2 linked regions of the Homo sapiens genome follow. The protein of the gene in region 2 purifies or fractionates together with the protein of the main gene of each other region. This does not show direct contact. Each region holds a gene or a part of one and is shown on either strand. Other genes may lie near its edges. The genes, in order: GNG2 and CALCR.

Region 1 (3,829 bases), on a different chromosome or scaffold from region 2:
AAAATAACACATTTCCACATGAAAGCAACACCACTGTACTACTACGAACGCCTGTCAAGTAACTACTGAAAGGATATCAAAGCAACTACTGAAAGGATAATCTAATTTAAGATTTGGGTGAATTATATTATTACTAAAGATAGTCACTGCCCCTTCCTACAAGTGGGACATACATGCCCACATGATGACATCAGACTTGCCCAGTGACATAAGCTTGCTCTGGCCAGAGAGATGTGAGCAGAATTTATGTGGATCAATTATGGGCAGAAACTTTAGGAGCCAATGCACAGTTTGCCATGTCCCTTCCTCTATACCACTTCGTCCGACTGAAATAATTTATGAGGAACCCTCTTAATTGATGCAGAGGTTTTAACAAATGGCATAGTGGCAATATCCTTGATTTGTTTCTTGTCCCAGGGCTGAGTTGATTAAAGCTTTGTCACTCCTGCCTCAGCCTCCTGAGTAGCTGGGACTACAGGTGCATGCCACCATGCCTAGCTGGTTTTTCAAAAATGTTCTTGCTATTTTGCCCATGCTGGTCTTGAACGCCTGACCTCAAGCCATCCTCCCGCCTCACCTTCCGGAGTCCTGGGATTACAGGTGTAAGTCACTGTGCCTGGCCTTTTTTACTTAAGGCTACTTCAACTTTATGATTTACTGGTTGGGTAGAGAAATCAGTTTCCTCTTCTCATCCCATAAACCGTTGAATTTTTGGGGTCTCTGTTCCCTTTGCCACAGAACAGATAGAAGCAACATTCTGGACAGAGGCTGCTCCATCTGCCAGCATCCCTGATGAAGGTGACATGGTGTGGAGTGGCAGCTGATTTATGATTGACATATGGTAGGAGTGAGAAGTGTGACTGTGCTATTGCAAACCCCTAAGAATGAAGGGTAGGGCACCTTCTGTTACTACCACAACATCTAGCCAACCCTAATTGACACAAAGAGGTACAGGTATTGGTTTGTGTATTTGTTTCCTCTGGCTGTCTTGAACAAGTCCTCACAAACTGGGTAACTTAAAACAACAGAAATTTATTCTGTTAGAGACTAGCAGTTTGAAATCAAGGCATCAGCTTGGTTGGTCCCTTCTGGAGGGTCTGAGCGAGAATCTGTTCCATGCTTCTCTCCTAGTGCCTGGTGGTTGCTGGCAATCTTTGGTATCCCTTGGCTTATAGACATATCACTCCAATCTCTGTCTCTATTTTCACATGGAATTCTCTCCTGAGTGTCTGTGTCTTTATGTGGCATTCTCCTCTCTGTGTGACCAAATTTCCCATCTCACCAGTTAGAGTTACCCTAATCCAGTATGATTCCTCTTAATTTGATTACATCTACAAATACCCTATTTCCAAGTAAGGCCACATTCTAAGATTCCAGGTGGGCATAAATTTTAGGGGACACTAGTCAACCCAATACATGATATGTATGTAAAAATCAGTCTCACTTTTTAATAGACATTACAGTACTTACAAAAATATTTTTATTTTATCCTTATTTTGTTCCAGACATTGAGTTAAATTTCCTCTTTTGATCTTCACAGTAATCCTGAGGTAAGAATTATTATCCTCTTTTTATAGATGAAAAATTGAGGCTCAGCAGATTATATAAGTTGTTCAATATCATAGAGCAAAGCACACAGCAGAAAAAGAACTTGAACTCGAATGTGTTGCCATTAAGCCACAGCCATCTGCATATAAACTACTCAAATGTGGGCTTTGTTCCAAAGGTTGAAATTGAAATTCTTTATGAAATGCTTCTATGACAAAATGAAAGGAAACAGCCTGTTTATGTCTTAGCTCTCCCACATGAAAACAAAGGACAGACTTTCAGACTGAATTGAGATCACTTTTTTTCTTCATTCTTTCTTCTTGTTTGAGCGATAGTCATTGTTACACCAAACAGGAGCTTAGCTGTTAGGCAGTGGAGACAGTAAATCAGTGATATCTAAAACTCATTTGTTACGAGGAGAAGCAGCACCGTTCATCCCTACCCGTTTGCAACACTCACATACAACTATGTAGCATGAATATTCAAAATCTTTTTATGATACAGGAAGTACTATACTAGGAAAATTTAATAACTTAGAGCTGCTCATATCTTTATATTTGAACATTTGATTCTGAATGGTTTCCTTCTTAAAATATATTATGTGTTTTATCTTGTTTCCTCAACAAGACTGCAATCTCCTGTGGGCAATGCTCCAACAGTGTCAGAATCCCAGCAGTAATTAGAATAATTGCTAATATTTATCAGCCCTTGCTATGTGTCAGAACTGTGCTAACCACTTTACATACGGTATCTTATTTAATCCTTACAACAACATTATGGGTCACAAGCTATTATCATTCTCATCTTAAATATGTGAAGTGGAGGCTTCATTAAGTGTTTGCCCCAGGTCCCACAGCTCCTGAGCTACTGAGTTGTGAGTCTCAATGTCCCTGACTTAATCTTCATGAACATTCCTCCTTTCTAACCTGTGGCTGTCTTCCTTGTCCTGTGCCTTATAATGAGTCACAGCAATCGTGTGCCTAGCAGATCTTTCTGCTTTCTGACAATCCCTGCTAACATTTTGCACACAGCTTCTTCTACATTCGTATGCCTACTTCTTCCATGAAGATTTCCCCAATAACTCCAGAAAATCTCTCCCTTTTCTGTCCTGTTGATTCTTCCTCCAAAGATATCTCAAATTTGGCTCCCTTCCTGTTATATCTATTGCAGCTACCCCAGTTCATACTGCAGTCTTCTCTCTTTGTGATTACTAAAATAACTTTGTAAATAAAGGCAATTAATTTGGATTACCCCAGGGTTCCACAGATCGAATTCGGGGGGTGGTATGTGAACTTCAAATAATACAAAAAATTTACATCTTTATTTTTCACTAACCTCAAATGGAAATTTAACATTTCCTCTCATTATAAATATAGACAACACACTGCAGTAGCCCTAGCAGTACATGTGACTTGGCCACTGATAGATACCAGATACTTTCAATCACATTATATTCATTGCAGACACCTCAACACTGCATTTCTGTTCATCCACCTTATGATTGTAGACCTATTAGATCTTACATAATCAGTTAACAAAGGAGTACCTATGTATAACTACATCACATATATTTTTAAAAATTGATATTTTAAATAATATTATTTAAAATGTTTTACAAAAATATTCTAATGACCCTCATGTCAATATAATTAGTTTCTTTTGTAATTTAAAAACATGATTCTAAGAAGGAGACCATAGGCTTGAGCAGACAGACAAATGAGTCAAGAGCACAAAAATGTTTAATTATCTCAGTTTTAAATGATTTCCTGTGTTCATAACTATGCAGGAGTAGTATTCTCCATACTGTAGCTAGAAAGATATTTTTAAAATACAAGTGGATTCCTATCATTCTCCTATTTAAAACCTTCAATAACTTCTCATTGTAATTTGTAGAAAACCAAAACTTTGTAAAACAGCCTGTGGGTATTGCATGTTTTGGGCCTCCCCCTCTCTCCAATTTCATGTTGTAGCATTCTTCCCTCTCAAATATCTCCTTTACTTTTTGAAAGCTCCAAGTTCTTTTTTGCCTCAGAGTGTCACATATTCAGTATCCTAGAATATTGTTCTCTTCATCTCCTCAATGGGTTGGCTTATCATCTTCCTTCAGAAGTCAGCAGAAATACCACCTCCTTGCAGAACCTTCACTGATCGCCTCATCCACAGTGACTTTCCTGATTATTTTCTCTCAGAGTACTTTCTCACATTCTTCTCTTTCACAGAAATTATAAATTGCTTTCACAGTTTATAATTACGGACATCGTTTGTTTATTTGCCATTTAAT
Region 2 (3,829 bases):
GGGCAGGGGCTTATAAACTCATTTTTCTCCCCATACACTATCATAATAAAGAGATTAAGAAAATTATTTCAATGAATGCATGGCAACAGAGAAAAATACTTTACATACTACATGGGTATTTAATATATACCTATATATTCATACACATGCAAACGCACACAGCTCACATGCATGGGACCTCTGGAAACTCTAAAACAAGGGATATCAATCATGATGTGATATGACATCTTTGTTGGGGGGATTAAACGCTGTCCAGGAAAGGCTAAAAAGAAGGAAGCAGCATGTAAGTTAAGCTTTAGGAGACTGCACCTTTCAAAAAGGGAAAATAAAGTAAGGCAGGCGTCTCAAACTGATTGAAATTATTGTGTACAATCAGTGTCTCCATTTCCTCATTTCACATTTATTTCTCAACCCACACCCAACTCACGACTAAAATTGCTCTCAATTAAATGCAATTGCGAGCTCTCAATCCTTATCCCACTTGATCTACTGGTAACATCCCGCATGAGTGCTCGCTTTCTCCTCCCTGGTTTCCATAAAATTACTTTCTCTCTCTCTCTCTCTCTCTCTCTCTCTCTCTCTCTCTCTCTCTCTGTCTCTCTCCTGTAGTCTTTCATCTCTGTCTTTTTTTTGCAGGATTGTTTTCCATTTCCCTTTAAATATTGGTGCTTTCCAGGATTCTAAGATGTTTTACTTTTCTTTTAATTTTCTACCTTTAATTTTTTCCTCTATGTTTTCTTTCTTTATTCCCTGTTTTTACTTCTCCAGAGATAATATGCTTTATTCCTATGCTGTCAGCTGAAATAGATTCACTATGTCTCTTAAATTTATATTTCTAGTACCAAATTCTCTCTTGAGGCACTAATTTCTATATGCACTTCTACTTAACATCATCACATGGATGAGCCAAAGACATTATTTTTTTTTCCTCCAAATTCAACTATTTATCTTGCCTGTCCAAAATACTCCTTGTCCCGACTTGGTGAATGACATCACATCTCTCTTATTATCCATGAAAGAGGCCTGGAATTCATCATACAATTTTTCTCTTTCATCTCACCTCTAATTTCTATCGTTCACCAAATCCTACAAAATCTACCTTTAAAATAATTTCGTTTTTTTTTCTTTTCTGTCTCCAACAAGGAGGCCCTAATTGATTCTTCCCTCTGTCACTGCAGTAAGGCTGCGTGTGTCCAGTTAATCTGTATCCATCCTTTTTTTCAATCTAATATGCCTCTTATTTTCCACCAGAGAGATCTACCAAAATGGCAAATCTGATTATTTCAGTAACCTATATTAACTCCTTCAAGGACCCCCCACTATCTTCCTGATAAAATGCAAACCCTTTAGTATGGTAGGCATGCAAGCTTCTTTGTGTATAATCTGTGTCCTTTAACCCTGCTGGGGCAACAAAAATACCTGTGGTTTCCCCAAGTCACCATGTTGTTTCAAGCCACAATCTGGTGTCCTGCCTGTAACACTTCATTTCTTCCCCTCTTTATCTAGCTCATTCTGTTCTGTCATTTCAATGCTGAATCATATGCCCTTTAGGGTAACCTCCCTAGAAAATTTCCCTGATGTCCGGGCTGGTTGTCCGGCTAGGCACCCTCATGGCATTTCTCTATTGGAATACATACCACAGGGCTGTATAATGTTTGTTGGTTTGTCTGTCTTTTCCATTCCCCATGAAATCAGGATCTGTAATCTGTCACAATATCCCCTGACTAGGACATAATAGGCACTTAGTACATATTTATTCAGTTTTAAAATATGAGCAAAGCTATAGGATGGAAATTTGTTAGATGTGTTATGGGAGAATGATTAATACATTTTAAGGATGAAGGAAGGTAAGATTTGAAATGTTGAATTCTGAACCACCGGACAAATAAAGGGCAGGGAGTGAGACTAGGGTTGCAGCGAGACATGAAAACCAAAGAAAAGCAGCTCTACAATGGAACCATTGATGTAAAGGGACACACACACACACACACACACACACACACACACTTCAATTTTGAGGCAGAAGAATATAGACTGAGGTTGACATGCAAGGGCACAGGGTTAAAAGTGAAGAATGGACTCCAAATCAGGAGTCAATTTTTCTGGTGTAACTACAGCTTCAGAACTAAAATTAAGGAGCTGTTGAGGTTTTCTACCTGACTTGGATAGGAAAGCTAAACTAGGATTATACCATGAAACATCTTAAATACCAGGCTGAAGAGGGGTTCTAAGTCTTGCAGTCCTTGGACCATTACTGAATAATTATGAACAGAGGGGGAGAAATTAAAGATTAGAAAACAAGTCTAACCATGTTCTATAACACTGAAGTTAGCACATAGAAACTTAATGTGACTGAATATTAGGAGAATAAATATTTTATTAATGATAATAAAAACTTAAACTAGAGGTGTGGCAGCGATACTTAGAGGAAGAAAAATGTAGCATCCATGGGAAAAACTGGAGGTAGTCTGAGACTTGATAAGAGAGAGGAAAGACATAAATTTTACTGAAATAGTTAAACATAAATTTTAGTGAAATGGAATAGTTAAATATTTCACTGAACCAGGTACTTTACTTCTTTGAGAAATAACTCCTTGAGTTTAGATTATCTGTGTTATTCTGGTACAAAGAATACCAATTTATATGCTATTTTTAAAAAATAAACAGGGACTTTAATTTTTAACAAAGACAGAATCTTATACCTCAGGTATCCACTGGTACCCTGGAGGTACCAGGCAGCTGTGCAGAGCTGCAGGCATAGACTAGGAAGTGCTGCCAGCTTCAATGAGGTATATGTTGCCTTGCCAACTTGTATTAGGGACATTTTTCTGTATCCTGTGATCCACTCTTTCTTCCCTGAAACATTTTTTTTCTTAAAAACAAAACCAAAACTACATTCTAATCAGACAAAACTGTTTTTGAAAAGCCAATTCAAGAAAATTACTGTTAGAAGTATTGAGGAACAGATACTGATAACATTTTTTCTACTGATTATTCTCCAATGTTCTATCTTCATGATTCACTTTTAATATAAAATTTTAAAGATCTCAAACCTCTCTATATTGCTGGTTTTCTAAATGTATAAGGGAAGCCAGAAACATATGTTAATATGATTTTCTGTGTTTTGATACTAGAATTGAAAACAAGTTAGTATCATTATGAAAACACAAAATCTTATCACTTGGTTTTATAACACTCATTATATGAAGCTCTGGAAGATCACATTCACATGGAAAAGCACACAGTTGTCAAGAAATGATGCTTTTAATTAAGTAAAAGATCTATACCTGATTGGGATGATTACTTATGTTCTTGTCATTCTCTACTAGACACGACATCCTTGAGGATAGGGATATGACTTATTTGTCTATGTATCTTCAGGCTTAGTGCAATGCTTGGCATATAACAATAAAAATTTTTTTGAATGAATGACATTTAAAAAAATATAACACATAGAACTTACCATGTACCAGACACCTACCCAAATGCTTTACAAATATTAACTCATTTAATTCTTATTCTACAAAGAAAATTAAGGCACCGAGAAGTTACATTATGTGCCCAAATCACACAGATAGAAAGTTATGGAATCAGAAGTCAAACTCAAGCAGAGCTGTGCCAGAATTTGTACTCTTAACTTATATTATCTCTAAATAAATGCTGCTGTTAAGTTGTAAAAAATACAAATATGTAAATAAATATATAATGTAATCCATCATTGAACTTAAAAAGACCTGGGTTCAAATATATTTTTAATTTACTTGGTTCGTGGCTTTGAGCGAGTTCATTAATCTAATGGGTCCTCAATTTCCTCATACATAAAATAATG

Evidence for each region.
Region 1: the proteins of CALCR (region 2) and GNG2 fractionate together in Homo sapiens (co-fractionation; one study listed by IntAct). This does not show direct contact.

The regions. Positions count from the first base shown.
Region 1 is NC_000014.9:51,961,523-51,965,351, reverse strand, and holds part of GNG2 (guanine nucleotide-binding protein G(I)/G(S)/G(O) subunit gamma-2 precursor), read right to left. Parts: intron 1-3,829. UniProt on the Homo sapiens protein: Guanine nucleotide-binding proteins (G proteins) are involved as a modulator or transducer in various transmembrane signaling systems.
Region 2 is NC_000007.14:93,567,963-93,571,791, forward strand, and holds part of CALCR (calcitonin receptor isoform 2 precursor), read right to left. Parts: intron 1-3,829. UniProt on the Homo sapiens protein: G protein-coupled receptor activated by ligand peptides amylin (IAPP), calcitonin (CT/CALCA) and calcitonin gene-related peptide type 1 (CGRP1/CALCA).